Linked DNA regions of Homo sapiens. The protein of the gene in region 2 interacts with the protein of the main gene of each other region in a pairwise test. Each region holds a gene or a part of one and is shown on either strand. Other genes may lie near its edges.

Region 1 (4,103 bases), on a different chromosome or scaffold from region 2:
CATCAGTGTGAATGCACTGAGATTAGTCAAGAACAACTTTTTTTTTTTTTTCTTTCTTTTTTGAGACGCAGTCTCGCTCTGTTGCCCAGGCTGGAGTGCAGTGGCACAATCTCGGCTCACTGCAACCTCTGTCTCCCGGGTTCGAGCAATTCTCTGCCTCAGCCTCCCAAGTAGCTGGGATTACAGGCGCCCACCACCATGCCCGGCTAATTTTTTTTGTATTTTTAGTAGAAACAAGGTTTCACCATCTTGGCCAGGCTGGTCTTGAACTCCTGACCTCGTGATCCACCTGCATTGGCCTCCCAAAGTGCTGGGATTACAGACATGAGCCACTGTGCCCGGCCATATGTTTTTCTTAAGAGAGAAAGGAAAGAGCTGGAAGGCACGGGGTGGGAGGGCCTGAAGAAGAGCATAGGTTGGGTGGGGTGGGGCATGGACTGATTTGGCCTCTTTGTCTTGATGCCAGGCCAGACCTGAGGGAGTGGGTATGCTCTTGGGGAGTACACAGGCAGTACCATGCTGTCATTATCTTTGCTTTTGTCTTGGGGGTTTAGCCAAAGATTTCATCCGGCACTTGATGGAGAAGGACCCAGAGAAAAGATTCACCTGTGAGCAGGCCTTGCAGCACCCATGGTGAGAATTCACACAACCTGTGAGCTGGGGCGGGATTTGGGGCCCTCAGGTCTGCTTCTGCCCTCATAGGCAACCCACCACATAACCCCATCCTAGGATTGCAGGAGATACAGCTCTAGATAAGAATATCCACCAGTCGGTGAGTGAGCAGATCAAGAAGAACTTTGCCAAGAGCAAGTGGAAGGTGAGTCCATATCCCTAGTTCTGGTCCCAGCCTCCCCAGGACTCCTCCCCATCCCTACCCAGGCTCAGCTTGCACAGCACCTGGCATCACACTGGGCACACAGTAACTGCTTAGGGATCCTTACTGAAGGACTTCATTCATTCACTCTTTCATTCAACAAACACTCCCAACACCTTCTCTATTCCAGAGAGGGTCCCTCACCTCCAAGTCTAGAGGAAGAAGTCTGTAATTCTTCAGGAGGCATCTGATCCAGCCTATGGGGTCCGAGAAAGGTCATAAAAGTGGTGATGACCTGACAGAGCTGTCAGTTAAGTAGGAATTAGTGAGGCATAGCGGAATAATGTCTATAGCCATTCCGGGAAGTGCAAGTGCTAAGCCTGGCCAGACTGGAGGGGCTGAGGGGACTGAGAGGCAGGAGCCCAATTTAGAGAAGCAGGTAAGGGGCCAGGCCTCTTAGGGCCTCATATGCCACAGAGGAGCACCAACTTGATCCTGAGGGCACTGAGGAGCCCCAGAAGAATCTTAGGCAAGTATTTGCTGCATAGAAAGGGCTCTCAGGGCCAGGCATGGTGGCTCACGCCTGTAATCCCAGCACTTTGGGAGGCCGAGGTGGTTGGATCACCTGAGGTCAGGAGTTCAAGACCATCCTGGCCAACATGGCAAAACCCTGTCTCTACTAAAAATAAAAGAATTAGCCACACATGGTGGTGCGTGCCTGTAATCCCAGCTACTTGGGAAGCTGAGGCAGGAGAATTACTTGAACCTCGGAGATGGGGGTTGCAGTGAGCTGAGATCGCGCCACTGCACTCCAGCCTGGGCAACAAAGTGAGACTCCACCTCAAAAAAAAAAGAAAGAGCTCTCAGGATGCAGAGAATGGCATGGAGTAAAGACTGGGTGACGCATTAGGAGGCTGTGGCAGAGATACAGGCAGGAGATGGTAAGGGTTTGGAACCACAGTAGCAGCAACAGGGGGCAGAGAACAGTGGTTGATCCAGGAGTCATTTAGGAGGTGAAACTGACAAGACATGACGATGCAATGGATGTTGGGGGAAAGAGATGTCAAGGGCTGGCCCAAGACTGTGGCTGGGAACAGAATGGATGGTGGTGGTACCATGACTGAGATGGTTATCACAGGGACAGAAACATGTTTTGGGGGGATGGTTTTAGTTTTAGACATGGTGAATTTGAGGGGTGTGTGGGACACCTAGGTGGAGATATTGAATAGAGACACACCTGAGCAAGTTACTTCAGCTTTCTGTGCCTCAGTTTCCTCCTTTGAAAATGATAATAGTACCTACCTCAAAGACTTTCATGAAGATTAAATGAATTACTACGTAAAGTGCTTAGAACAGTGCCTGACATACAGTGCTATAGTGTTTGCTATTACATATTAATATGAATTATAGTTATGTTTCTATTTATATATATAGATACACATACATCTAACATATGTGCGTGTGTGTGTGTAAATATATAATAAAGCCTTGTAGAGGTTTTTGGGGGGCTTTAGGGGAATTAATAAAATAACTCCTGAATGAAAATAACAGAACAATTGCAAGAATCCCACTGCGCCCCTGCCCCATGACTTGACTCTCTCAAAAGTCCTTTCTCCCCTCTCCCTTCAATGCCTTCAATGCCAGCAAGCCTTCAATGCCACGGCTGTGGTGCGGCACATGAGGAAACTGCAGCTGGGCACCAGCCAGGAGGGGCAGGGGCAGACGGCGAGCCATGGGGAGCTGCTGACACCAGTGGCTGGGGGTGAGGAGCGGGCTCTGCAGAAGGGCATGGGTGGTCCACAAAGGTGCACCCGGGCTGGAGTGGAGGGCCTGCCCCTGCGGCCACCTCTGTTCTGTCTTCCCATGCAGGGCCGGCAGCTGGCTGTTGCTGTCGAGACTGCTGCGTGGAGCCGGGCACAGAACTGTCCCCCACACTGCCCCACCAGCTCTAGGGCCCTGGACCTCGGGTCATGATCCTCTGCGTGGGAGGGCTTGGGGGCAGCCTGCTCCCCTTCCCTCCCTGAACCGGGAGTTTCTCTGCCCTGTCCCCTCCTCACCTGCTTCCCTACCACTCCTCACTGCATTTTCCATACAAATGTTTCTATTTTATTGTTCCTTCTTGTAATAAAGGGAAGATAAAACCATCCTTAGCGCTGTCTCCCTCAATATCCCCCACCCCATCTTGTTGTGCAAACTGACTGCTTGATTTGGGGGTGCCTGGCCTTTGAGGTAGTCACAGGGAGGCCCCTCCCCAACATGAGACTGGGTGGGGATGGGGAGAGAGAAGTGGGGAATGGAGGGGAAGGTGCTTGGGGAATTTCTTTGTCCAGGGTGCCCCATCTAGCCTTCCGGCCCTTTGGAACCCTTTCTGCGCTTTGCTGGTGGCTCCTGAGCATGGCGGGATTGGCGCAGGTCGGCACTGAACAGCACCTGTAGGAGGGTGGAGTCTGTGTGGGGAGGAGGGTACACTGGGGTCAGGGCTGGTGAGACTAGTGACAGTGTTGGGAGGTGGAAGAGTCCTTGGGGAACAGGGCCGAAGGCAATGAGAATCCACTGGGGTTGGGACAGGGGTGGCTGGAGAGTCCTTTAGGGCCACCTGGGGCGGTGGTGGAAGAGTCCACTGGGTCTGGGCTGGAGGAGAGGAAACCTAGGGAGGACACCTAGGTACACTCACCGCTTGGGCCCAGCCAGCATAAGGTCCCCACAGGCTCCGGAAAAAGTTTCCTAAATCAGAAGTGATGAGACTAAGTTATCTGACCCCTTCTGTGACCCATCAACAGAAGTAGGGTCTGAGGGAGAGGTGACTAAGAGAGAGAGAAGTTTCTACCATCCCAGCCCACTGCCAGCCCCTGCAGCCCACTTTCCTCACCCAGTTCCTTGTTGGTCTGGGGGCTCGGTCCCTTCGCCTGGGACGTGGTAGGGTGCCAGCTGTAGTCACGTTGGGCAATGTGCCACATATGGACATCCACGGGCACAGCCTGGGGCTTGTCTAGGGCCATCAGGCAGATGCAGTCAGCCACCTTTGACAGACACAGAATGAGCCCTTGTGGAAGAAGGGCAGCATGTGGCCAGCATCTTGCTTATAGCCCCAAAGCCGGCTGCTTTCTCCTTCACTCTGGGGTTACTGTTGTTCTATATTCTCAATCAACAGATACTATCTATGAATACACTTTTTTTTTGTTTGTTTTTGAGATGGAGTCTCGCTCTGTTGCCTAGGCTGGAGTGCACTGGTGCAATCCTGGCTCTCCCAGGTTCAAGCAATTCTCCTACCTCAGCCTCCCAAGTAGCT
Region 2 (8,002 bases):
AGGGTTCCAGGTGCTGGGCAGCAGCACCGTGGAGGTGCTGTCCAGGGTGGGGAGCCTCCTGGGTGGACGGGTGATGCTGTGGGGGTGGCAGCAGGAATGCAGGCCATTCTGGATAATTGGGAGGATGGAGCCCTTGGAAGAGGTCCAAAGACACACCCACCCAGCCATCCTGGGCAGCTACCTCTAGGGTGCCAACATTCCAGTTGCAACAGTCCTGCTGCATTCAGGATTTCTGAGTCAGAGAATGCAACGCCAGAAAAGTATAAATAGCATCTACCAGTGGTCACCTCCTCCATGAGGTGGATAGCAAGGGTGTGTCCACATGGTACACCTGACAATGCTAAGACATGACTTGAATATTTATTTGCTTGCTAGAGAGAGCATAGGACTTGAAGTCAGGGAATCCTGGATCTGTCTGTCATTAGTATGATTCTGAGCAACCTACTTTGCCTTTCTGAGCCCAGATTCACTCATCAGCAATGTGTGGAAGAGCACGTAGACCCCAAGCATATGATGCATTCAGCAAGCACACATTGAATGCTGGCTTCGTGAGGCCCTGTGCTAGATGCTGGGGGGAGAGAGAGAAAGGGATGAGACCAGGTAGTCAGGTCCTGCCTCCAAGGAGCAACTAGTAGTGGCAGGAAATAAACATATAGACTATAAAACATATGACTGTTTGAGTAACACTACAGAAAAGCTCATGAAAGACTTTTGGAGGGCTAAGGGACATTTTGGAAAGATCTAGCACATCTCACCCAGAGCAGAGGCCCTGTGGGTGGAGGCTCCTCTCCCTTAGTCACCCTAATTGAGGAACATTCTAGCAAAAGCAAACGCCTCAGTGTTTAACTGACAGGAGGTTGTCACTCCAATCTGCAAAGGGCTTGCCTGTGGAACCTCTGCCTCCTGATTCTCACAACAGCACCTTACAGCCAAGCCATTCAAAAATGCAGAAACAGGCTGGAGGCCTGGGCTCACTTGCCCAAGGCCAGTCTCTTAGATTGTGCAGAATTTCTCTTTGATATCATCAAGGTGTAATGCTCCATGATTCACTTCTTTTGAAACCTGGCATTGAGACAAGGGACAGGAGGGATCAGAGTTCCTTCAACTGGGTTGCGTTCCAGTAGCAAGCATCCCCCAAGGCACACAGGCCAGCCTCCCTCTGCCCCTGGGAAAGAGAGCCAGGACACCCTCTCCCTTACCCATGCAGATATGATGCTGGTTCAATGCTGGCTTCTGAGAAAGACTCCTATGTGCTCCAGGGCATGCCTGAGGTCCTGGCTGGCACAGAGCAGGTTGCACATTGCAATCCCCTGCTCATCACATTCCCAACACCCAGGCTGCATCCCAGGTATCTTCAGTCAGTACCTAGGGGTGGGCGTCAGTATTTTTCAGGGCCCTCCAGATTCCAGTATGTAGCCAAGGTGGAGAATCCTACTTCACAGATTCCTTTCTACCTGGAACCTTTTCATCAGCTTTTGAGGGAGGGAAAACACTCCTTTGCCGAGAGCAAGCTGATCAATGACCTGTGTATAGGCAGAGCAGCAAACACACGGCTTCAGGGCCAGGCAGGTACATACATGGGAAATGCTGGCTGGGTGAGAGGGAGCGTGAAGAGCTGTGGGAAGCCGAAGTGGCCCCATCAGAAGCTGTGCACAGGCACCTTGTTTTTAATGACACGGGTAGGTCAAAGCACAAACAGCTGCCAACTCATGACCTTTGTCTTAAAAGTTTAAACGGCAGGAGAACTGCTTTGGCTTTTACACATTTAACATGGTATCTTGGAGGCTCCTTAGTGCAGTAGAAAGGACATGAACTTCAAGAGTCAGGAGACACAGGGTCTTGCCTGAGCACTGCCATCAGATGGCCCCTTACCCTTCTTGAAATGTAATATGCCAGAGGTCGGCCCAGATATTCTCTGAGCACCCTTCCAGGCCTAAAACACTAGGATACTGTGAGATTAACTCCTACTTCTGGTCCTTCACTCCTGCCTGTTGGCAGCTCAGTCAGGTAATAGCACCTGGAGTTCACCCACCTGGGTGTCCCCCACTTCTGCTAATCTCCTCCTCTTGAATCCTTCTTGCTGTTCAGCTTGGAAACTAGAATTTAGGAAGAAAAGTCACTGTATGATGTAATGCACAGCTTTGGCCTTGTTTCTGCACTGTAGTGACCCAAACATCCCCGATAAAACACCCACTGCTTAAGAGGCAGGCTCGGATGGACTATAGCTTTGATACCACAGCCGAAGACCCTTGGGTTAGGATTTCTGACTGCATCAAAAACTTATTTAGCCCCATCATGAGTGAGAACCATGGCCACATGCCTCTACAGCCCAATGCCAGCCTGAATGAAGAAGAAGGGACACAGGGCCACCCAGATGGGACCCCACCAAAGCTGGACACCGCCAATGGCACTCCCAAAGTTTACAAGTCAGCAGACAGCAGCACTGTGAAGAAAGGTCCTCCTGTGGCTCCCAAGCCAGCCTGGTTTCGCCAAAGCTTGAAAGGTTTGAGGAATCGTGCTTCAGACCCAAGAGGGCTCCCTGATCCTGCCTTGTCCACCCAGCCAGCACCTGCTTCCAGGGAGCACCTAGGATCACACATCCGGGCCTCCTCCTCCTCCTCCTCCATCAGGCAGAGAATCAGCTCCTTTGAAACCTTTGGCTCCTCTCAACTGCCTGACAAAGGAGCCCAGAGACTGAGCCTCCAGCCCTCCTCTGGGGAGGCAGCAAAACCTCTTGGGAAGCATGAGGAAGGACGGTTTTCTGGACTCTTGGGGCGAGGGGCTGCACCCACTCTTGTGCCCCAGCAGCCTGAGCAAGTACTGTCCTCGGGGTCCCCTGCAGCCTCCGAGGCCAGAGACCCAGGTGTGTCTGAGTCCCCTCCCCCAGGGCGGCAGCCCAATCAGAAAACTCTCCCCCCTGGCCCGGACCCGCTCCTAAGGCTGCTGTCAACACAGGCTGAGGAATCTCAAGGCCCAGTGCTCAAGATGCCTAGCCAGCGAGCACGGAGCTTCCCCCTGACCAGGTCCCAGTCCTGTGAGACGAAGCTACTTGACGAAAAGACCAGCAAACTCTATTCTATCAGCAGCCAAGTGTCATCGGCTGTCATGAAATCCTTGCTGTGCCTTCCATCTTCTATCTCCTGTGCCCAGACTCCCTGCATCCCCAAGGAAGGGGCATCTCCAACATCATCATCCAACGAAGACTCAGCTGCAAATGGTTCTGCTGAAACATCTGCCTTGGACACAGGGTTCTCGCTCAAGTGAGTTTCTACACCCGGTGTTTCTCTTTACCTTTCTCATCTTTTTCTTTCTCATCTTTATTTTTAAAAATAATCCTATATATAATTTAAAAAATTCCCAGATATATTGATTAAAGAATTGTTCTGCCTCTTTCTTTCCATGTGTGTGCAGATGTCTGAGTGTGTGTGTGTCTGTCTGTAGGTATTACACCTCTGCCTTTCACATTAAGGAGGAGTTTTCACAACATCTGGCTTCAGGAGGGCTGGGAGGTAGGAGGTGGGACTGGCTCCCTGGTGAATTGCTCATGAGGGCTGACATACGCCTGTGGAGATTTGGAAGGTTGATGCACATCTGAAATGTCCTGCGGTTACTCAGAAAGACCAGAATGAGGCCAGGAAATTATCCATCAGGAATTCTTACTCTCCAAATGGAATCCACTTGTACTCTGCACGTGGGTTCAACTCCCTCGTCAGGGAGTTAGGATGTCTGGGTCCTAGTCTCAGCTTAGGCACTGATTCTGACTATGAGCAGGTTCTTTCCATGCTCACCCTCAGATTCCTTGTCAGTTGAAATTAGGAGATGGATGAGACCTTCTATGCAGAACCAAGAGGATGTCAGACGTGCCATAGGGTCCCTGCTGTAGGGCTGGGGCTTGGTCTTCCCTCTGATCAAAGTAGCTCTGCATTTATTAGTTTTATTTATTATTCTTACACTGCTGGGAAATATCTGTAGAGTGAAGGTATGCTAGTATCTACTCATAGATTTGTTGCATCAAATAATATGCACATAAGTGCTTGGCACCACACCTGGGACATAGTAATTATACAATCACTGTTACCTCTTTTTAATATTGTTGTTCATACTGTGTGTTGTTTCTCCTTATGAAAGCCTTTCAGAGCTGAGAGAATATACAGAGGGTCTCACGGAAGCCAAGGAAGACGATGATGGGGACCACAGTTCCCTTCAGTCTGGTCAGTCCGTTATCTCCCTGCTGAGCTCAGAAGAATTAAAAAAACTCATCGAGGAGGTGAAGGTTCTGGATGAAGCAACATTAAAGGTAGGTTTCCTTTGTAAGCATCTGCAGTAACCAATGGCTTATTATGGCTGTGTGGCCACCTTAGTTGGGCCAGAGGGGAAGTAGCTTGAGTAGCCTGCTCACATCAGACCCAGGTTGCGTCCTGTGATGGTGGGACACTGTAGCACTTGACCACAGTAAGACCTTCCATTTGAAGAGAGCCTTTTAGCTTGTGAACCACTTTCAGTAGATTGACTTCTTGCATCTTCTTTTGTCATTTTATAAATGAGAAAGGTAAGGCTCAATCAAGGTTACAGAACCTGGGTTTTCTGTCTCCAAGTTCAAGTTCAGTGCTGTTTCCACATTCCATGTGCTGCTGTCCTGGCATGTGTCTGTTGTGGGATGCTGTCCATTGTAAACAATGTGGGTTACAAGAGCTCTCACCTGGAGCTTTCATTATTTCCACTGTGCATGGAGAGGTGGCTGATCCCAGGGCTCACAAGTCCCCCACGCTTCAGTCAAGTCATTCTGAAAGTCTCACTTCCCATATGTTTTCTGAGCATGACCCAAAGGGGTGTGGGGAGGAAGTGGCCAGGCTGAGCTGGGGCCAGCAGTCAAATGAGCTCAGGCTCATGGGTCCTGCACCCTCTAGGTGCTGCCCCAGGCCTCCGTAGGCTTTTGGCACTAGAATGATCCAGGCTAGGATGAGAGGATAAGGAGGTTCTCGTTTTCCATACAAGGAGGCCTCATAGCTGCAATTTCCACATCAAGAGTGTAGGTGAGTCTGATGAGCCCAAGGTGCTGCTGTGCTGAGATTCTTTCGCTGTGGCTTTCACTTGTCACCTGGGACCATCATCCCCCAGGATCTTACTCAGTGCAAATGAAATAACAGAGGCAGAGCGTGTAAAACACAAAGAGCCATCCTGCCTGAGCTGCTCTGGGGAGAGTATTTGCTTTCTAACATGAGAAGAGCCTTCTACAAGGCAAGTAACCTGATACTTGGGTAAAAGTTGAGAGAGTTGGGCTAGTGTTGGGGCTTGGAGGTGAGGGTGCAGTGAGGTACATTCATCCTTCCATGCCTTTGGGTCTTAGGGGCTCCAAGTCTTAGGATCATAGGGACAGCTGCAAGTCAGGTGCTCTAGTGACGCTGAGCAAGTGAATTCTTTGACATAAGTTTACTCCTTAGTGCCAAGGTACAAACAGGTGCCCCAAGAACCTGTAGGTGTACTTTATTTGGTCTGCATGGTGATGAAAAAAATATTGAATTCTATACATGATAAAACCTGAATTGAAACCTGGACTTTAGGGAAGTGATCTGGTAGCGCTAGTTCTGTATGCCTACGTAGAGCTGACCCTTTGAGCAGATGTACTCGTTGGCGCTCTGCAGTTCCTATCACACATCTGCCCATTTGGCTCATTTTAGGGACCTGCCTGACTCCTATAGGCATCTGAGTTTGAGACCCCTGCTCTAGACTGGAATAGGAGTCTCTGACTGTGTCCTGGCTCCATGGGAGTCCCCGTCTAGGCTAGGAAGTACCGTAGTAATGTGTGTGTGTGTGTGTGTGTGTGTGTGTCACACTTGCACACTGTGCATTGGGGCAGGATGTTAGCTGGGCTTCCTTAGTGCTGCTGCTGTGACCCATGGAGAAGTAGAAGGGAAGAAGGAGCAACCAATTCCTGCAGAACAGCACTGACCCCTGTTTTGTTTTTTGTTGTTTTTTTTTTTTGTTTTGTTTTACCTGAAGTCCTACAACCTGACTTCATCTCACACTGTCCAATATGCTGATTTCTGGCTGACTTCATGGCACTCCCCCTGCCCGGCTGTGGACAGGGTGAATGAGAGAGGAAAATAATTATGCTTGCTGCTTTACATACATTTTTTTTTTCTTCTAAGCTTCCCATGACTCCTGAAGGTCCATTCTTTACAGATGAGGAAACTGAGGTTTGAGGAGGTGATGTAACTTGGAGGCTGGCCAAGCTGGGGTTTGAGATAACAAATCAGTCTGATGTCAGTCCGATGTTAAATTGTTCATCCTCTTGCAGTAAAATGTTTTTGAATGTATGTATTTCCTCTGCAGCAATTAGACGGCATCCATGTCACCATCTTACACAAGGAGGAAGGTGCTGGTCTTGGGTTCAGCTTGGCAGGAGGAGCAGATCTAGAAAACAAGGTGATTACGGTGAGTGGCCAAGTGAAGGGGCATGTCACAGCCAGAGGCAATGGTTCTGGGGGAGGGGGACACACTTGCCAGGAAGGGGCCCTGTGCTGGGGAAATGAAGAATGCATGACACTAGGCCACTGGGCAGGTCCTGTCCACTCAGCACATCCCAGAGCCTGGGGCTGCGTGGAGAGGGTAGCAGGCCTGGCCATGGGCATCTTTTCCTGTGGGTCCCACTATTCTGGCTCATCCAATCTGATCAGCATTGGCTGCTGCCTTCAGGTCACCTGTACCTGACCCAGATGGTTTCTGGTTCTGCCAGTTTTGTGGAGCCATGCTGCGGCTGCTCGCTCTCTAAAGCCGAGTGCATTGCTGTCATCCCAGGGCTGTGTTGTCTCAGGGTATCCTTTGTGTAGGCTGTGCTGGGCTCATTTGAATTTCCATGCCCAACTGAAAACAAATCCTCCAGTTCACAGCATCAGCCAGCATTCAACATACCACACCCCCTTGCAGTGGCAATCTGGCATGTTCCTGCGTGTCACTTCAGAGTCAATCATGTCAGTGGTGACTTCCTTGATTTCCTGATAAGTTTTCTATCACATAAAAAACACTTAAAACCTGTAAGTCTCTATTTCTCTCACTGAGTGCAGCTGAGTATTACAAAAAGATTCCTGACCGTGTAGTTTACTTTCTACTTGAAGAGGAGGAAAGAGAGCTTGCCTGTGGGAATGGCACTTTGGGTATTTTTCTCTGTCCATGAGTAGCAACTTCTGTCCACGTCATCTGGCCAGTCACCCTTGAGACACTGCAGACAACAGGAAACTAGGAGGAAGGCGCACATGTTGGCTGAGCACATGCACAAAAGCTTCTTTCTCCTTCTGTGTTTGAGCATTTCTCTTCCTTTCCAGATGATTAAAAGGGAACTAACGTAGAGCACCATCCACGGCCATGCTGAGCACTCACTGACCTGTTGTCTAAATTCATCCTACCCACACTTTGGATTGATAAATTGGTGGCATTTATGCTTCTTTTATAGAGGAGGAACCTGAGGTTCCTCCTTTAATTAACTTTAATCTTCGTTGGCCTAAAAATCCTCTAGCATTGAGGAACCTGAGGCTCAGAGGAGAGGTTCTGCTTCATGCTTGGATGTTACAGCCTGGGGATTCTAACCATGTAACAGAATTTTTCTAACACCAAAACAATTTAGAGAAGCAAAGAGCTTTGCTCCTATCATAAAAGCAAAACTACAGGTACCACATTTTAGTGGTTTCCATGCATGCTATCACTCAGTCCTCTTAATTATAATGGACCTCATTAAAGAGGCTGAGGCAGAGACATGAGATATTTTTGTGTGTTTGTTTATCCCACATATCTTGCAGAAAGGGGACCAAGAGGTGACTGGAGGTAAAGAGTCAGAATTTCTAGGGGAGGAGCTATAAAAATGTCTAGACTGCCTAGGAGAGTGTTTCTCAAAATGCATTCTGCCAAATGAGACCGAGAATTTCTCTATGAGAAAAGAATTCTTTGTTGAAACACTTTGGGAATCCCCATAATACCCTGCCAATACTTAGAAATCTGCCATGCAGAT
Region 3 (8,699 bases), on a different chromosome or scaffold from region 2:
TCCCTGTCATCCTTCGACAGGCCCAGCTTTCTTTATCTTCCCTGAGGCCCCAGTGGTCACAGGGGAGTGGGAACTAGCAGGAAAGGTGGAAGAAATGTGTAAGTGGAAAATCAGACTCCCAGAAACAGAGTCTCGTTAAGGCATTTGGAATAGATAAATTAATTCAGGAAGACCCACCTTCACAGAAGGTCGGGGTAACCAGACACACACACACATGCAAGACAGTTTGTGGAACCCTGAAATGGGAACAAAGGAGGCCATAGTCACTGCTTCGAGCCCCCACAAAAACACACACCCAGAGTTGCATTCAGGGATCCAGGCCACCGAAGATGACATGAGGAAGGATCGATCCCCTCTATCACAGTTTTAGGACCCCAGAATGATTTCCATGATGTGATCCAGTTCATTCCACTCCCAAGAACCTGGGGCACAGAAGAGGTTGTGAGGAGGCTCTGGTGGGGCCCGTGCAGGCTCCTTTTCTACCGCAGATGTGTCAATGTCCAGAAAGAAGTCATCCAGGCCAGAGTCCCCCAAGTACCGGGAGCTCAGAGCTTCTAAGAAGACTGGATCAGGCTGGGGTGGCACTTCATTCTGGAGGCCAAGGGGAGTCACTGGATTCTGAGGGGGCTCAGTCCCATCCATGGAGGTGTCCAGCTCCCTGAGGATAGAGCCAATGGTGGCTGACAGGGAGAAATCCTCCTCGCCCAGGAAGAGGGGCTCGGGGGGCAGGGCAGGGGCGGGAGCCAGGCGAAGTGCAGCCTGCAGCTGTTGGAGGGTGTTATGGATGAGGACATGCCTGCGGAGGCTGGGTGCTCGGGGGCCCAGGCTGCGCTGGACTTTGTCTAGGGAGATGCGGAGCAGGGCTTGCTGGTAGCTCTGAAGGCCTGCTGGACTCCACTCCCACCTCTCCTCCTCCTCTTCCAAATCAGAGTGTTTCCTCTTCAAGCCTCCCACCATGATGCCCTGTAGAGAGAAGAGGCGCATAGGGGAAGGTCAGACACCAGACACCGTAGTGCTGGCTCATATCCCACTTTCTCAGGCCTATTGAGTTGTTAGTGATTTTTAATCATCGGAATCTCAGTTTACTGATGTATAAAATGAAGGCTGTCTGAATCCTACAAGTTTAAGAAGGTGAGTACATATACGATTAAGAAAATAAGATCTGGCGTTACGTACAGCTAGATTTAAATCTCACTTACTTGCCTGTTGTGGCCTCAAACAGTGAATTTACATCCATGAGAATCAATTTCCTCATCTGCCAAGTACGGATCCTAACTCAAGTTCCTCTAAGCCTTAAAACTGTTCTTCCACAATATTAATTTCTTCAAACATGGAGCACGAAAGACAAGTGTGGAGCACAGAGACCTGGATTGGAAGTAGGGAACCCCAAATCTGAATTCTGTATTGGAAACTGCTCAGCTGCGTGATCATGGGAAGTGATCTGAATGAGTCAATTCTCAGGGCCTCAGTTTCCTCATCTGTAAAATAGGGACTGTAAAAAAATACTTCTCACCACCTCTGTCAAGGAGATGCCACGTATCTATAGGGCCCACCACACCGGAAGTGCTTAATGAACAAGAGTTGTGTTTGTTTTTTGTTAGAGACAGGGTCTCGCTCTGTCGCCCAGGGCTGAGTGCAGCAGCGCTATCACAGCTCACTGCAGTCTCGAAGTCCTGGGCTCAAGCGATCCTCCCGCCTCAGCTTCCTGAGTAGCTGGGATTACCACCACACCCGGCCTCGATCAAGAGTTAATTGCCAGTTATTCGCTCAACAGATTTACTGAGTGCCTACTATATTCGAAATCTCCTGGAGCCCTGTTGGGGAACCTATGTTGAGATTCTTCTTCAACAGTCGGGATATTTCTATGTCCTCTTCCTTAACCGACTGGGAGCGCTCCCAAGAGTAGGAAAGGGGCCTGTCTCATTCCCTCTGCCCACGCTTTCAGATTCCCCCAAAGCGCGCCCCATAGGAAAACTTGCTAGAACTCAGCTCAGACCAAGCCCCGCCCCCTCGGAGGTCCCACTCAATCAGACCGCGACACTGTAAGGCCCCGCCCCCCCATGGGTCCTTACAGAGCATCCAGGAACGCCCCAATTTGGCCCAGGGGCTTCTGGGAAACGGGGGCCAACAGCCGCCAGGTACACGAATTGACGTCGAGCACGCACTACAATCCCCAGAGGGCTCCGCCCGTCCAGGGGACGAGCCACCCCCCTCACCCCGCTCTCCCTCAGGGCATGCGCACAGGGGCACAGGCGGGTGGGGGAAGGGAACCTGGACGTCCAGCTGCCGGCGCCTGCCGAGCCCCGCCCTCCATTGCCTCCGGGGCCGCGAGTCTGAGCTCCAGGCCCGGAACACCCCTCCCCCACCCCAGACTCCGGCTCTAAATTTGCTTTCTCCCGGTCCCTCTGTTCCTTGAAAGTCCGCGATTCTCCTTCCAAACTGCCCTTGGATCCAGAGACCCAGATCCGAACACATCGCTCAAAGACGACAATGCTCCGATCTAGTTCGGGAGACTACGTATCCTAATTCTGATACTTCCTCCCACTTCTCCTAGTCTCCTGACTTTCAAACGCCCCTGGACTTCACCTCCAAACTCGCTGTCCGGCTCCAAGACCCGAACATTGAACTCTTCCCGGCAACCTCCTTCCCCCGCCAGTGCGTCTTGGAGTCCCAAGAATCCTTGACCCTAGTTCTCTCGCTTCTCCAAATACTCAGAATCTCAGCTCCGTACCTCTCACACCTTTTCCAGAACACGATAAAGCCCCGAATTCAACCCGTCCGGAAGACCCAAGTGGAATCGAATCTCCAGGTTCCCTGTCTCAAAAGTTCCTCCCCTCTGTTCTCTCGCTTCTCCAAAAGCCCAACGTCCCAGCTTCAAACTCCCTCCACTTGAAAATACTGCCCCAACAACCTCGCCTCCCCTCCTGGGTCTTGAACTCAGTCTCAGGTCCCCAGACCCTCCCTATCATCACCCTGAATCTGAGGCCCCCTCCCCCGGTCCCACCCAGACCCCGCCTCCGCAAGTCCCCGGGGCGCGCTTCTCTCTCCCCCAGCCTAAGGTAAATTCCCAAGCCAGGCGACCACTCCTCACCGCAGCTGCCAGGTTCGCCACGACCACCTCCTGGAACGCCCACAGCGTTGCGACCCGCCAGTGCCAGGACCCACCAGTGACCGGTTGGAGCCTCGCTCACCTCGGCGGGGCCTCTCCGTCTGGCCTCTGGCCCACCAGCCCCGCCCCGGAGCCGAGCCGCGAGCCGCGATTGGCTGGAGTCCCGCCCGCCGCGGGGCGTCGATTGGCTGGGCGGAGCCATCCGCCCGTGCCCCGAGACGCCGGATCCGCCCACCCCTCCCTAGCGCCCCGGGCCATTTAAAGAAGTGCAACTGGCAGGGGGCGGGGCAGCGACTCCGGGGTGGAGGGCGGCCGGTCCAACAGAACCGCTTCCTTCCACTCAGCTACAGTCCTCGCTCCAAGATCGTCACCATTGCTCCCTGCGGTTCCTTTATGGTAGGCCTGGACTCCACCGTGGAGCCAGAGGGGCTGGCATGCCCCTCCCCAAGTCGCTGTGCAGGCGGGCGGGGCCGAGCAACCGGAGGAGGCCGCGCCCCCGGGGTTCCGAGGGAGGACGCTGGGGCGCGGGGGATGACGTAGCGGAAGACCAGCCAATAGAGTGGCGCGGCCCGCGTTGCCTAGGCGATCGTAGCCTCGCCCCCTTGCTGCCCCTCCCGCCCCCTATACGTTACCGCGCGGCCCCTTCTTAATCCTCAGGTTTTCTCAGCACGTCCTCTGGTGGTCCCACCTGGGTCTTCTGACACCCTCTTTCCTTCCCCGCTCCATCAAGATGACTCCTCTGCTACTGTTCATGGCTTCCTACCCACCCCGAATACAAACTTCAAACTCCTTCCTTTTGCCACAAAGCCCCTCACGACCTTGCTTGATGCGTTCTCCTGGTTCTCTCCGATCCTGCCCCATTGAGTCACTTCCAGTTTTTCTAAAATGGCTTCAAGCTCCCATTCACCCCATCAGGAAAACGAAAGGATTTTCTCTGTTTGTTTTCTTCCCTGCTTTACCCCAGTGTCTACAACAATGCCAGGTACATAATAAGTTCGCAAACATGACAATAAAAGGCCTCTGGATCTTTATTATTAATATTATTTTTTGCCGGGCGCAGTGGCGCACGCCTGTAATCCCAGCACTTTGGGAGGCGGAGGCGGGCAGATCACTTGAGGTCAGGAGTTTGAGACCAGCCTGGCCAACAATGGTGAAACCCCGTCTCTACTAAAAATACAAAAATTAGCTGGGCGTGGTGGCGCACGCTTGTAATCTCAGCCACTTGGGAGGCTGAGGCAGGAGAATCGCTTGAACCTGGGAGGTTGAGGTTGCAGTGAAGGCGAGATCGTGCCACTGCACTCCAGCCTGGGTGACAGAGAGATGGGGGAGGGGGGAGGGGGGTTTTCTTGTGTTGCCCAGGTTGGTTTTGAACTCCTGGCCTCAAGCAATCTTCTCGCCTCTGGATATTTAAACTTGTTTCCTCATCCTCAAAATATACCCTCAATTCCCAGGCTGCTTCTCAGAACACATTTCAAAGGTTTCCTCCTCTCCGAAGCCCTCCCTGGCAGTCCAGGTTGGGTTAGGATCCATTCTAGGATTCCATGGCCTCCTGTGCCGCCATCCCAGTCCTGGACTGTCAGTTACTATATGGACTGAGGAACGCCCCGCCGAGGGCAGGTACCAAGGATATCTCTGTCAACCACCTCTTGGTCTGCAGGATCACCTAGCACAGGGCTGGACACGTAGCAGGTCCCAGTGAAAGTTTGCTAAATGCTCAGGAATGTGACAGAAAAATAAGGCAGAAAGAAGACACTGCTAGTGTCCTGAAAGCCCACACCCGTAATGCTCCGCCCCTACAACGAGTTTCCCTAAGGGGAGGAGGCAGTTTTCTCCAGGCCACCTCTGGGAAGGGAGGTTTAAGCCTCCTCAGACCAGTTCTTGCCGGTTGGAGTTTGTCAACCAAGTCATCCTGATGTTTGCAGGATAAATGGGAGGGGAATAGGTAGGTGGGTGGTGTGGGTTGGAGGTAGGGAGAGAGAAGTGTCTTAGCTCACCCAGGCCTAGGGAAGGTGTCCCTGGGAAAAAAAGAAAGGGACAGTAGGTTCCAAAAAAGGACATAATTAGGAAGGAGCAATTCTTCCCCTTCCTCCTCCAAAACCTGCGCCTCCTATAGGGTCCACAACTCAGGAAAGCCCTACTGCATTTGGGTTTTTGTTTTTGAGACGGGGTCCCACTCCGTCGTGGATGCTGGAGTGCAGTGGCGCACCTTGGCTCACTGCAGCCTCAGCCTCCCTCCTGAAGCACTAGTGTAACTCTGTCCCCGGGTTACAGCCGTATGCTTCTTTCTGATGCCTCCCCTCCACCCCTCACCAACTGTCCACGCAGGCTCCCAGGCATTCCTCACACCCACTCTCTCCTCCCCTCCTTACAGTTCCTCCTCCAACTCCCTCTGGGCTATCAGCCTCCATTCCTGGACCCTTCCTTTCCACCTTCACAGAGTAGCCAAAGGAAGCTTCATAAAACACCCAACTGTCCCCCCTGCCTTACTTCTCTGGTGCTCCACTCCTTGCATAAATCCTCAAAATAAAGCACAAACTTTTTTTTATTTTCAGAGACAGGGTCTGGATCTGTCCTACAGGCTGGAGTGCAGTGGCCAGGCCTTGACCTCCTGGCCTCAAGCCATTCTCCCGCCTCAGCCTCCTGAGTATCTGGGACTACAGGTACACACCACCATGCCCAGCTAAGTTTTTAAAAATTATTTTGTAGAGATGGGGTCTCACTATGTTGCCCAACCTGGACTCCTGGCTTCAAGCCATCCTCCCACCTCAGCTTCCTGAGTATCTGGGACTATAGGTGCACACCACCATGCCCAGCTAAGTTATTATTATTATTATTATTGAGATGGAGTCTCGCTCTGTCACCCAGGCTGGAGTGCAGTGGCACAATCTCGGATCACTGCAACCTCCACCTCCCAGGTTCAAGCGATTCTCCTGCCTCAGCCTCCTAAGTAGCTGGGATTACAAGTGTGCATCACCACGCCTGGGTAATTTTTGTATTTTTAGTAGAGACAGGGTTTCACCATGTTCGCCAGGCTGGTCTTGAACTCCTGACCTCAAGTGATCTACCCGCCTCGGCCTCCCAATGTGCTGGGATTCCAAGCATGAGCCACCATGCCTGGCCAGACTCAATAAACTGTTACTGGGCGGGGCGCAGTGGCTCACGCCTGTAATCCCAGCACTTTGGGAGGCGAGGCAGGCGGATCATGAGGTCAGGAGATCAAGACCATCCTGGCTAACACGGTGAAACCCTGTCTCTACTAAAAATACAAAAAAATTAGCTGGGTGTGGTAGTGGGCGCCTGTAGTCCCAGCTACTGGGGAGGCTGAGGCAGGAGAATGGTGTGAACCTGGGAGGTGGAGCTTGCAGTGAGCCAGATTGCGCCACTGCACTCCAGCCTGGGCGACAGAGCAAGACTCGGTCTCAAAAAAATAAAAAAATAAAAATAAACTGTTACTGAACAAATGAATGAATGCATAACAAGCAAATCTTACACAGAGGCAGGCAGACACACCAAAATACTCAGACAGAGGCAGAGAGAGGAAGAGTCACACAGTCGGTTTCTCTAGAGTAATTTGAAGCTCTTGGCTCAACATTTATTGCCCCCTTCCTTTGCTCCTCATGTCCCAGAATGCCACCCTCCCAGATGGGGACAGAGTGCTACTGGTACTGGTGGGAGGGGTAGGTGCTGTGTCCGTCGTACTCATCGGTGGTGAGGCAGCGCAGCATGAAATGGCCCAGGTCATGTTTGGAGATGACCCTTGAGGGCCCTCGTCCATCCAGGGTCACTGTGTACGCCCCAGTTAGTGGCTGGTCTCCTATGAAGTAAAGACAAGAGGGGCTGGATAAAGCAGACACCTTTCCCTTCCCCCAAAATTCGACCCCCAGAAAGACCTTCCCAGGGTGCCTACTGTGTGTCCAGCCTGGGTGGTGTCACAGCCAAGAATGGACTTTCCATATGCAGGTGCTCATCTATATCCTTTGCTTCATTCATTCGATAAATCCTTATTGATTACCTATTGTGTGGCCAGGTGCTGGGCACCCAAGCAAGGGACAAAGCAGACAGGAATCCCCTGCCCTGGCCAGTGGCGGTGGCTCATGCCTGTAATCCTGGCACTTTGGGAGGCTGAGACAGGAGTATCACTCAAGCCCAGGAGTTTGAAACTATCCTGGGCAACACAGGGAGACCCTGAGTCCACTAAAAATACAAAAATCAGCCGGGTGCAGTGGCATGCCCCTGTAGTCCCAACTACTCAGGAGGCTGAGGCTGGAGAATTGCTTGAGCCAGGGAAGTTGAAGCTACAGTGAGCCATGATCGTGACACTGCACTCCAGCCGGGACGACAGAGCAAGACCTTGTCTCTAACAACAACAACAACAAATATATATATATATATATATATATATATATATATATTTGTCAGATAGATATATATCTGTCTATCTGACAGTAACCAACTAAACTTAGGGATACAATGTACCATCACCCAAACAGAGACAGGCTGGAATTATGCACAGTATGGAACACACACCCTTGGCTGTGTGTTTGCTTGGGACAAAGCAGACAGGAAGCTCCTGCCCTGGCTGGGCACAGTGGCTCACGCCTGTAATCTCAGCACTTCGGGAGGCCAAGGTGGGAGGATCACTTGAGCTCAGGAGTTTGAGACCAGCCAACATGGCAAAACCACATCTCTACAAAAAATGCAAAAATTCGCTGAGTGTGGTGGCTTATGCCTGTAGTCCCAGCTACTTGGGCAGGAGAATCACTTGAGCCCAGAAGGCGGAGGTTGCAGTGAGCCAAGATTGTGCCATTGCGCTCCAGCCTGGGCTACAGAGGGAGACCCTGTCTCAAAAAAAAAAAAGGAACACACACCTTCACCCATGTGGCATTCCTGCCCAACATGTTTAATCTGAATCTGTGACAAAACAGCTAGAAAAATCCAGAATGTGGGCCTTTAAAGTCACCTGGCCTGGTTAATGTTATGAGAAACTTAAAGAAAAAGGGCAGAGTGGGTTGAATTTTTTTTTTTCTTTTTTGGATAGAGTCTTGCTCTGTCACCCAGGCTGGAGTACAGTGGTGCAATCTTGGCTCACTGCAACCTCCACCTCCCAGGTTCAAGCAATTCTTGTGCCTCAGCCTCCCGAGTATCTGGGATTACAGGTGTCCGCCACCACACCTGGCTAATTTTTGTATTTTTAGTAGAGACGGGGTCTCACCACGTTGGCCAGGCTGGTTTTGAACTCCTGACCTCAAGAGATCCACCCGCCTCAGCCTCCCAAAGTGCTGGGATTACAGATGTGAGCCACCACGCTGGCCTGACAGTTGGGGAAATTTTACTACGGAGTGGATACTAAATGATATGACAGAGTAAATGTCACTTTCCTTAGGTGTGAGCATGTTTTGTGTGCAAATATCTTTCTTTTAGGAGATGGCTGTCTAGGTATTTAGGAGTTAAGTGCGACAATGTTGCAATTCCTCTCAAATGATTAAGCCAAATATACATATGCATATATGTTTTCACAATATATTCAGCAAAATCTAACTATATATTCATGGAGAGAGAGAGAGGAGGAGAGAGGGAGAGACAACAGGAT
Region 4 (8,255 bases), on a different chromosome or scaffold from region 2:
AAAGCACTGCAGCTTGAGACTTGCTGGAGCCCATCTATCACACTCTCACCTAATCCTCAAGACAACCCATTTTATAGAAGAAGAAACAGGCTCAGAGAGGAGTGACTTGTCCTAGTGCAAAATTCAAATGCAGGTAAATGCAGGTGAGCCTGATATGTGGGACAGGTGGCACCCACATCCTCAGTCTCACCAGTAGGCTTCAGTAAGGACGTAGCTGCCTCTCCTTGTGCCTCCCCCACTAGCCTGGGAGTGCTCCACAGCCAGCCGGGGTCGAGTACCCAGGAGGCAGCTGGGTGCACAGTGACAGGAGGCGGAGGCCTCAAATGGAGAACTGTGTGGCAGGAGGCACGGCATAGCTAGGGCCTGGGGGTCCACAGAGGAGTACACAGCAGGGATGGAGCTCTCACCACTGCAGGAGAAGCCATCCCGATGCAGCTCATAGCCCTGGTGGCAGCGACACAGGAAGGTCCCATAGGAGTTGAAGCAGCGCTGCTCGCATGGGGCCCCCATGTCACACTCGTTCACATCTGGGGGTGCCAGGAAAAACAGGAGGGATGAAAGCGGAGGAGGAGCCCAGAGCCTCCACTCTACCTGGGCTGGTCAAGAAGGGAGCGCCCCCACCTCACACCTCCCTGCCCAGGACCCAGGAGCCTGGCCCAGCCCAGCCTCACCAACACAGGAGCGGTTGTTAGGCCCCAGCTGGAAGCCCGGCTCGCACTGGCAGCGGAAGGAGCCAGGCAGGTTCACGCAGCGGTGCTGGCAGTAGCGGTAGCGGCACTCGTCTATGTCTAGGGATAGAGGCAGGAGAAGGAGGGCGGAGGGCAGAGGGCAGAGGGCAGGTGGGCTCGAGCCGGCTGGGACTCAAGGCTTCACCACCCATAATCCTGTGTCCGAGGAGCTGAATTAGGCAGGGTCAGCCAGGACACCTCCCAAACACTCCCCGCTACAGTCCTCTGTGTCTGATGACGGAGGGTGAGGTGGCAGGGGCCGGGGGTGAAGCCTGGCTTGAATGGGGGTCAGGTGCTAGGGCAAGGGCCAGACCAGGGACACAAAGCCGGGACTACAGAAGCTGCTTCCTGGACTCACCCACACACTCGGGCCCGATCTTGCGGTAACCATCAGGGCAGGTGCACTGATAGGAGCCAGGCAAGTTATGGCAGTCCTGGCTGGGGCGACAGTCGTGCAGGGCCTGGGCACACTCGTCCACATCTGCGAGAGACACCACTCAGCCCCTGCCTGGGATCCCGCACACCACCCAACATGACAGATAGTTCCAACACTTGTATTCGGTTCTCTCAACAGCACGCGTAAGAGTTCACCAGCCTGGAGCCATCAGGAAAGGCACCCCTAACCTCTAAAACCACATGTTGGGGGTTGCACAGGAAATAAGGTCCTGTCCAAACATCCCCAGCAACACTGATTCCTGGACTGTCCTTCCTCCAAGGCCTGTGGCTCCCAGGGGACAGACACTGGAAGGCAGACTTCCTGCAGTGTCTCTGCAGCAACCGAGGGGAGGGGCCCGGAGCTGGCTGGAGCAGTGGCACACAAGCTGGGGCCACCTGCGGCAGGTCCTAAACAACATGAGTGTCTGGATGAGGGTGTGGACATCACCAGTGGCCCTTTTGAGCTGGGGAGGAACATGAGGTCTGAGTTTAAGACGCCTGGTGAGAGGACTGGAAGCCAGGCACCAGAGCAGTCCCCACTCACCCACACAGCTGTCCTGATCGTCGGGCTCATAGCCTGGTGGGCAGGGGTTGGGGTGTTGAGCGGGAGGCACTGGTGGCGGGGGTCCCTCGCCGTGTAGGTCGTTGATGACGGCAGCGGAGCGGGGCAGGCACAAGTAGCCCCCGTAGTGGTTGATGCACTTCATTTCCCCCTTGCAGGCCTCAGGGATGGTCAGACACTCGTTGACATCTGCAGAGAGGGGCCTGCTGGGCACAGCCAGTCTCCTGGGCTGGCCCTGGAGGGAGCGGAGGCAGGAACCCAGCTCGGCCTTCTCTGAGATGTGTGGCCCCAGCAAAGCCTTCCCACTCTGCTCAACAAGCTAAGTCTGCCTGCTCAGGACCCCTCCCCAGGGTTGGCCAAGGCTGGAGATGGGGCAGCTGTTCCCACTGTTGCCCTCATTCTCGGCCTGCAAGTGGGTCTCTATCCCTCCCCACGGCCCTAGCCCTAGCTCAGCCCAAGATGGGGGGCCTCCTTACCCACCCCTGGGGACGCTACCCTCCCAGGTTGTGATGAGACAAAGAGCTGGGACAGGAGAGTGGTTCAGAGAAGGCGTACAGGATCCAGCTCCTCTGAGGGGTAGGGACAAGGTTTCCTGGGTTTCTGGGAGAGGATGAGGCCACCCCTAGCTCAACTGGCCTCCAGAGAGCCAGAGCTGGCCTCTGTGTAGCAGAGCTGGGCATAGAACGGGCTGCTGGGCTCCCACGGCAGTTCTTGGAGGTGGGGCTGTCCCTTGGAAAGCAGCTATCAATCCCTTTCCGGGTTCCTGGGGGTGTTTGGTCCCCCAGGCACACACACCCCGGCAGTGCTGGCTGTCTGGGTCCCACTCATAGCCATCTGTGCATTCCTGGAAGGGAACCAGAAGTGGCCAGTGGTCACCCTAAGATCTCCTCCAACTGGCCAGGCCAAGACTAGGGCCTGAGCCTGGCCACCCTCCGGCCTGCTCCAAACAATGGCCCCCAGCTCTCCACCAGCCAGGGGAGGAAGACTTCCCCGGCAGCAGTCACCCTGGGTCCCGGTCTCTTCCTCCCTACCCTTCCTGTCCCAGGCCAGCGGCCCTCACTGTCCCCACCGTGTAGCTGTCGGGCTCTTCAGAATCCTGAGGAGAAGCTGATCCCAAGAGCAACAGTAGCAGCGCCCAGAGCAGTAGAGACCCGGGTAGGCAGGAGGCGCAGGGGAGCATCCTGGGGCTGCGAGATGGTGGACACGGGTCAGGGGCCTCTGCCCGCGGCACCTCAACTCCCTGTACCGGGAGCCCGAGCCCAGCCCCCGCCACTGCCCGCTCAGGACCGTGCTTGGGCCTCGGGGCCTCCCAGGGCTGGGGGCCGACTCCTCACAGGCCCAGGTCCCAGGCCCGGGTCCCAGGCCCACCCGCCCCGGCCACCCCGCCCCCGCCCCGCGCCCCTGCGGCGAAGGCCGAGGAGCGCGGGCCTCTGTGGGCGCTACGCTGCCGCGGACTCGGCCGAGACTCCGGCCCACGCCCTCCCCCACGGACGGTCACAGCCACTCACTTGGGCCCGCGACACCCCCGCGGCCCGCGGCTCTGGCGGCTCGGCTGGCTCGGGCAATGCCTGCGGGCAGACGGACGGGCGGACGGCACAGCTCCCTGGACGCGCGGCCCCAGGAAGCGCCCCCCGCCCGCCCGCCTGCCGCGGCGCGGCCCACCCCGGCGCCTCCGCCCGCCCTTCGGCGGATTCCTGAGCCAGCGCCAGGGGGAGGGACCCCGACCCCCCGCTTCTCCGCCCCCGGCCAGCCACAGGCCCCTACCCGGTCCCCCGCGGCGCCGCCAGGAGCCGCCTCCCGGCGCCGGACCAGGGTCCCCCAGTGCTCGATCCTGGGGCCCCGACCTTGATGCCAGGCCCCCAGACTCACCCGGGGGCCCCCAGACGCTCACCAAAAATGTCATCCTGCTCACCTAGGTCCTACCTAATCTGCGCCCCCAGAATTTCATCCTGTGCACCCACACCGTAATCCTGGAGCCCCCAGATTCTCATTGTGCGCCTCCCGAGATCGTCCTGGGTACCTAGAGCCCACCTAACCCAGTCCTCCAGACCCTCAATCTGCTCCCTGCAAAATTTTATTCTCTGCCCCAGACCGTCATTGTAAAAGATCCTAAAACTTCATCCAGGGTCCCCAGACCCTCGCCCAGGAACGAGAGGCTCCCAGGAGCAGAACTGTCCTTCTCGCTCCCTCCTGCCCTCCACCCCCAGGACCGTCTTCAGCCGGGTGGTCCTTTCACTACACACGGCCTCCCCCACACCCTCCATCCACAAAGCTACAAGTTTGGGGGCGAGGGCGGCAGTTCCCTTTTGGCACAAAATGAATGGAAGCCCCTGAGAAGGAGGGCAGGGCTGATGTCGGACGTGCGGGATGCCAGAGTCGGGTGCCAAGGCGCCTCCTCGACCTCCTCGCACCAGCGTCCCCCGCCCGGTTTCCGCCTCCGCCCGAAGTGGGGGCGTGTCCTTGGGGCGGAGTATGGGCGGGGCTGGCTCCCAGGAAGGGCGTGGCCTCTGTTTGCCCACGTCTTTGGGCGGGGCCAGGCGGGAAAGCACTGCGTGTCCGGGGATCCCCCGCCTGGGGCCCGCCCTTCCTTTCCCCTTGCCATCCCTGCTTATCCCCGCAGTCGCCCTCCACGTGACCCCGGGGAGGGAGTCTGCCGAGGAGGGGACGTGCTGGTGGGTCCCGCGGCGAGCGCCTGGGGCTCAGGTGAACTGCGCAGTGCCCGCTCCTCGCCACTCTGCCACCACCATCCCTCCCAGCTGCTGGGGCAGAAGGTTAAATAATAGCTCTTTAGGGGCCGGACGCGGTGGCTCAAGCCTGTAATCCCAGCACTTTGAGAGGCCGAGGCAGGTGGATCACCTGAGGTCAGGAGTTCGAGACCAGTCTGGACAACATGGTGAAACCCCGTCTCTACTAAAAATATAAAAATTAGCCAGGCGTGGTGGCGCGTGCCTGTAGTCGCAGCTACTCAGGAGCCTGAGGCAGGAGAATCACCTGAACTCGGGAGGTGGAGGTTGCAGAGAGCCCAGATCACACTGCTGCACTCCATGGGTGACAGAGGGAGACTCCATCTTAAAATAATAATAATAATAATAGGCCCGACGCGGTGGCTCACGCCTGTAACCCCAACACTTTGGGAGGCCAAGGTGGGCAGATCACAAGGTCAGGAGTTCAAGACCAGCCTGGCCAACATGGTGAAACCCTGTCTTTACAAAAACACAAAGAAATTAGCTGGTGTAGTGGCACGTGCCTCTAATCCCAGCTACTCGGGAGTCTGAGGCAGAATAATCTCTTAAACCCGGGAGGCAGTTGTTGCAATGAGCCGAGATTGTGCCATTGCACTCCAGCCTGGGCGACAGAGCGAGACTCCATCTCAAAAATAGTAATAATAATAATAGCTCTTTAAAACGAGAAAGACAGTAACAAGTGTTGGCAAAGATACGGAGAAACTGGAGCCCTCATGCACTGTTGGTGGACAATGGTCTGGCAGTTCCTCAAAATGTTATCACATGACCTGACAATTTCACTCCTAGGTATACATACCTAGGATAATTGAAAAGATATGTACACACACACAAATCTGTACGCAGCGTTTATAGCTGCACTATATATAAGAGCCAAATGCAGAAACAACACAAAAGCCGTCAACTGATGAATAACAAGATGCAGTACATCCACACAGTCGAACATTATTCAGCCATAAAAACTAATGAAGTACTGATGCATGCCACAATATAGGTGAATTCTTTTTTTTTTTTTTTTTTTTAATTGAGACGGAGTCTTGCTCTGTCGCCCAGGCTGGAGTGCAGTGGCGCCATCTCGGCTCACTGCCAGCTCCGCTTCCTGGGTTCACGCCATTCTCCTGCCTCAGCCTCCTGAGTAGCTGGGACTACAGGCACCCGCCACCAGGCCCGGCTAATTTTTTGTATTTTTAGTAGAGATGGGGTTTCACCGTGTTAGCCAGGATGGTCTCAATCTCCTGACCTTGTGATCCGCCTACCTTGGCCTCCCAAAGTGCTGGGATTACAGGCGTGAGCCACCGCGCCCGGCCAATATAGGTGAATTCTTGAAACTACTATGTGAAGTGAAAGAAGCCAGACACAAAAAGCCACATATTCCATTTATTTTTTATTTTTTTTAGATGGAGTTTCGCTCTTGTTGCCCAGGCTGGAGTGCAATGGCATGATCTCAGCTCACCACAATCTCTGCCTCCTGGGTTCAAGCAATTCTCCTACCTCAGGCTCCGGAATGGCTGGGATTACAGGTGCCTGCCACCACACCTGGCTAATTTTGTATTTTTAGCCGAGATGGGGTTTCACCATATTGGTCAGGCTGGTCTCGAACTCCCGACCTCAGGTGATCCACCCACCCTGGCCTCCCAAAGTGCTTGGATTACAGGCGTGAGCCACCGTGCCTGGCCCACGTATTCCATTTATATGAAATAACCAGAATAGGCAAACCCAGAAAAACAGAAAGTAGATTAATGGTTGCCAGAGGAAGGTGGGGAATGGGGAGTGTCTGCTAATGGGGTCTGGGTTTTCTTTGGGATAATGAAAATATTCTAACACTAGATAGTAGTGATGGTCACACAACTATGCAAACATACAAAAACCCACTGAATTGTACACTTCAAAAAAGTGAATTTTCTTTGGGAGGCCGAGGCGGGTGGATCATGAGGTTAGGAGATCAAGACCATCCTGGCTAAGACAGTGAAACCCCATCTCTACTAAACAAATTAGCCTGGCGTGGTGGCAGGCGCCTGTAGTCCCAGCTAATCGGGAGGCTGAGGCTGGAGAACGGCGTGAACCTGGGAGGTGGAGCTTGCAGTGAGCCGAGATCGCGCCACTGCACTCCAGCCTGGACGACAAAGTGAGACTCTGTCTCAAAAAAAAAAATGTGAGTTTTATAGTATGTAATAATACCACAATAGGCCAGGCACGGTGGCTCACGCCCGTAATCCCAGCACTTTAGGAGGCCAAGGTGGGTGGATCACCTAAGGTCAGGAATTCCAGACCAACTTGGCCAACATGACAAAACCCCATCTCTACTAAAAACACAAAAATTAGCGGGCTATGGGGGCGAACGCCTGTAGTCCCAGCTACTCAGGAGGCTGAGGCAGGAGAATCACTTGAACCGGAGAGGTGGAGTTTGCAGTAAGCCAAGATCGTGCCACTGCACTCCAGCCTGGGCAACAGAGCAAGACTCTGTCTCAAAAAAAGGAAATATAAAAAAAGGCAGGAAAGGGGTGCTGCTATCACCCCATTTCACAGATAGGGAGGCTGAGAGACTTGTCCCAGGTGAAGGATGGGACTTGCACTCATGTCCCACGGACTTCAAGACTCGCTGGGCTCCTTGCCCCATATTAGAGCATTAAGGACCCGCCCTGCAAACACCCACTCTGTGCCAGCCACAGTGGTGGGTGCTCCACTAAGTATCTTCCACTCAAGCCTCAGCCTGAGAATTGTCATTGCCAATTAGAGATGAAGACATGAGGCCCAGGGGGGATGACTTAGTGCACAGCTGGTGCACAACCTAGACCTGAACCTCCATCTTTGCACTATCCAGCCCGAGTGAGCCTTCCACTTGGAGTTGCCTCCTCAGAATGCCTCCCTCGTCCTCTGCACCCCCAGTGACTTTCCCTGCCTTCGCCTGCTCTGCACTGGGTCCCTTTCAAGGTCCCAGACACCACTGGATCAGTGTCTCCCTCCTACCAAGCAGGGAGCTCCTCTCAGGCAGTGAGGCCCCTGTGCCCATGGCCCAGCCCTTACTGGGTACCAGCTGGGATCTGCAGAGTAGGCAGTTGAATGAACAAATGAGTGAGTGGGTGGAGGAAGTTCATTGATTCACTCAACAAATGTTTTCTCGGCCGGGTGCAGTGGCTCACGCCTGTAATCCCAGCACTTTGGGAGGCCAAGGCAGGTGGATTGCTTGAGGTCAGGAGTTTGAGACCAGCCTGACCAACATGGTGAAACCCTGTCTCTACTAAAAATACAAAAAGATTACCCCAGCATGGTGGTGCACACCTGTAGCCCTAGTTACTTGGGAGGCTGAGGCAGGAGAATTGCTGGAACCCGGGAGGCAGAGGTTGCGGTGAGCCGAGATCGTGACACTGCACTCCAGGCTGGGCGACAGAGTGAGACTCTGTCTCAAAAAAACAAAGCAAAACAAAACAAACAATGTTTACTGAGTGGCCACTGTGAAGCAGATGCTGTGGTGCTAGCCAGGGACACAGCACTGACCAAAAACAGACCCAAACCTCCTGGCCTCAGGAGCTCTAGTTCAAGGGAAGGGAGGAGAGGATCAAAGGGAAGGCCACTGGGCCCCACACCTCCAGTTCCTTTTCCCCGTGGCCTCCCACATCCCCTACCATCACAAGAGGCCCACACTGGGACCTCCACCTCTGAGGGCTGACATGGAGCCTTAACTATCAGTCACACACAGGACAAGACTGGCTGGGGCCCATAACTGGGCTCTAGAACCACAGGGCCAGGCACCACTCTGGGGATGGTCTGTCCACTGCATTTCAATAAAGG

The links.
Region 1: the proteins of IL16 (region 2) and CAMK1 interact in binary tests that used the Homo sapiens proteins (3 or more experiments, as listed by UniProt).
Region 3: the proteins of IL16 (region 2) and SERTAD3 interact in binary tests that used the Homo sapiens proteins (3 or more experiments, as listed by UniProt).
Region 4: the proteins of IL16 (region 2) and EFEMP2 interact in binary tests that used the Homo sapiens proteins (3 or more experiments, as listed by UniProt).

Annotation. Positions count from the first base shown.
Region 1 is NC_000003.12:9,756,202-9,760,304, reverse strand, and holds the end of CAMK1 (calcium/calmodulin-dependent protein kinase type 1), read left to right. Parts: intron 1-554; coding exon 555-633; intron 634-729; coding exon 730-817; intron 818-1,018; coding exon of another isoform or gene 1,019-1,118; intron 1,119-2,458; coding exon 2,459-2,576; coding exon of another isoform or gene 2,577-2,683; coding exon 2,684-2,766; coding exon of another isoform or gene 2,767-2,788; 3' UTR 2,789-2,958; downstream 2,959-4,103. Other genes in the region: OGG1 (N-glycosylase/DNA lyase), read right to left, coding at 3,489-3,538, 3,684-3,834. UniProt on the Homo sapiens protein: Calcium/calmodulin-dependent protein kinase that operates in the calcium-triggered CaMKK-CaMK1 signaling cascade and, upon calcium influx, regulates transcription activators activity, cell cycle, hormone production, cell differentiation, actin filament organization and neurite outgrowth.
Region 2 is NC_000015.10:81,297,216-81,305,217, forward strand, and holds part of IL16 (pro-interleukin-16), read left to right. Parts: intron 1-2,088; coding exon of another isoform or gene 2,089-2,132; exon of another isoform or gene 2,133-2,164; coding exon 2,165-3,260; intron 3,261-4,128; coding exon 4,129-4,297; intron 4,298-6,333; coding exon 6,334-6,435; intron 6,436-8,002. UniProt on the Homo sapiens protein: Interleukin-16 stimulates a migratory response in CD4+ lymphocytes, monocytes, and eosinophils. Primes CD4+ T-cells for IL-2 and IL-15 responsiveness. Also induces T-lymphocyte expression of interleukin 2 receptor. Ligand for CD4.
Region 3 is NC_000019.10:40,441,124-40,449,822, forward strand, and holds the start of SERTAD3 (SERTA domain-containing protein 3), read right to left. Parts: upstream 3,213-8,699; 5' UTR 3,092-3,212; intron 2,955-3,091; exon of another isoform or gene 2,732-2,954; intron 1,493-2,731; exon of another isoform or gene 1,432-1,492; coding exon of another isoform or gene 1,366-1,431; exon of another isoform or gene 1,200-1,365; intron 964-1,199; coding exon of another isoform or gene 958-963; coding exon 367-957; 3' UTR 1-366. Other genes in the region: BLVRB (flavin reductase (NADPH)), read right to left, coding at 6,766-6,923.
Region 4 is NC_000011.10:65,869,450-65,877,704, forward strand, and holds the start of EFEMP2 (EGF-containing fibulin-like extracellular matrix protein 2 precursor), read right to left. Parts: upstream 3,352-8,255; 5' UTR 3,234-3,351; intron 2,913-3,233; 5' UTR 2,906-2,912; coding exon 2,795-2,905; intron 2,570-2,794; coding exon 2,521-2,569; intron 1,915-2,520; coding exon 1,708-1,914; intron 1,210-1,707; coding exon 1,087-1,209; intron 789-1,086; coding exon 672-788; intron 528-671; coding exon 408-527; intron 1-407. UniProt on the Homo sapiens protein: Plays a crucial role in elastic fiber formation in tissue, and in the formation of ultrastructural connections between elastic laminae and smooth muscle cells in the aorta, therefore participates in terminal differentiation and maturation of smooth muscle cell (SMC) and in the mechanical properties and wall integrity maintenance of the aorta.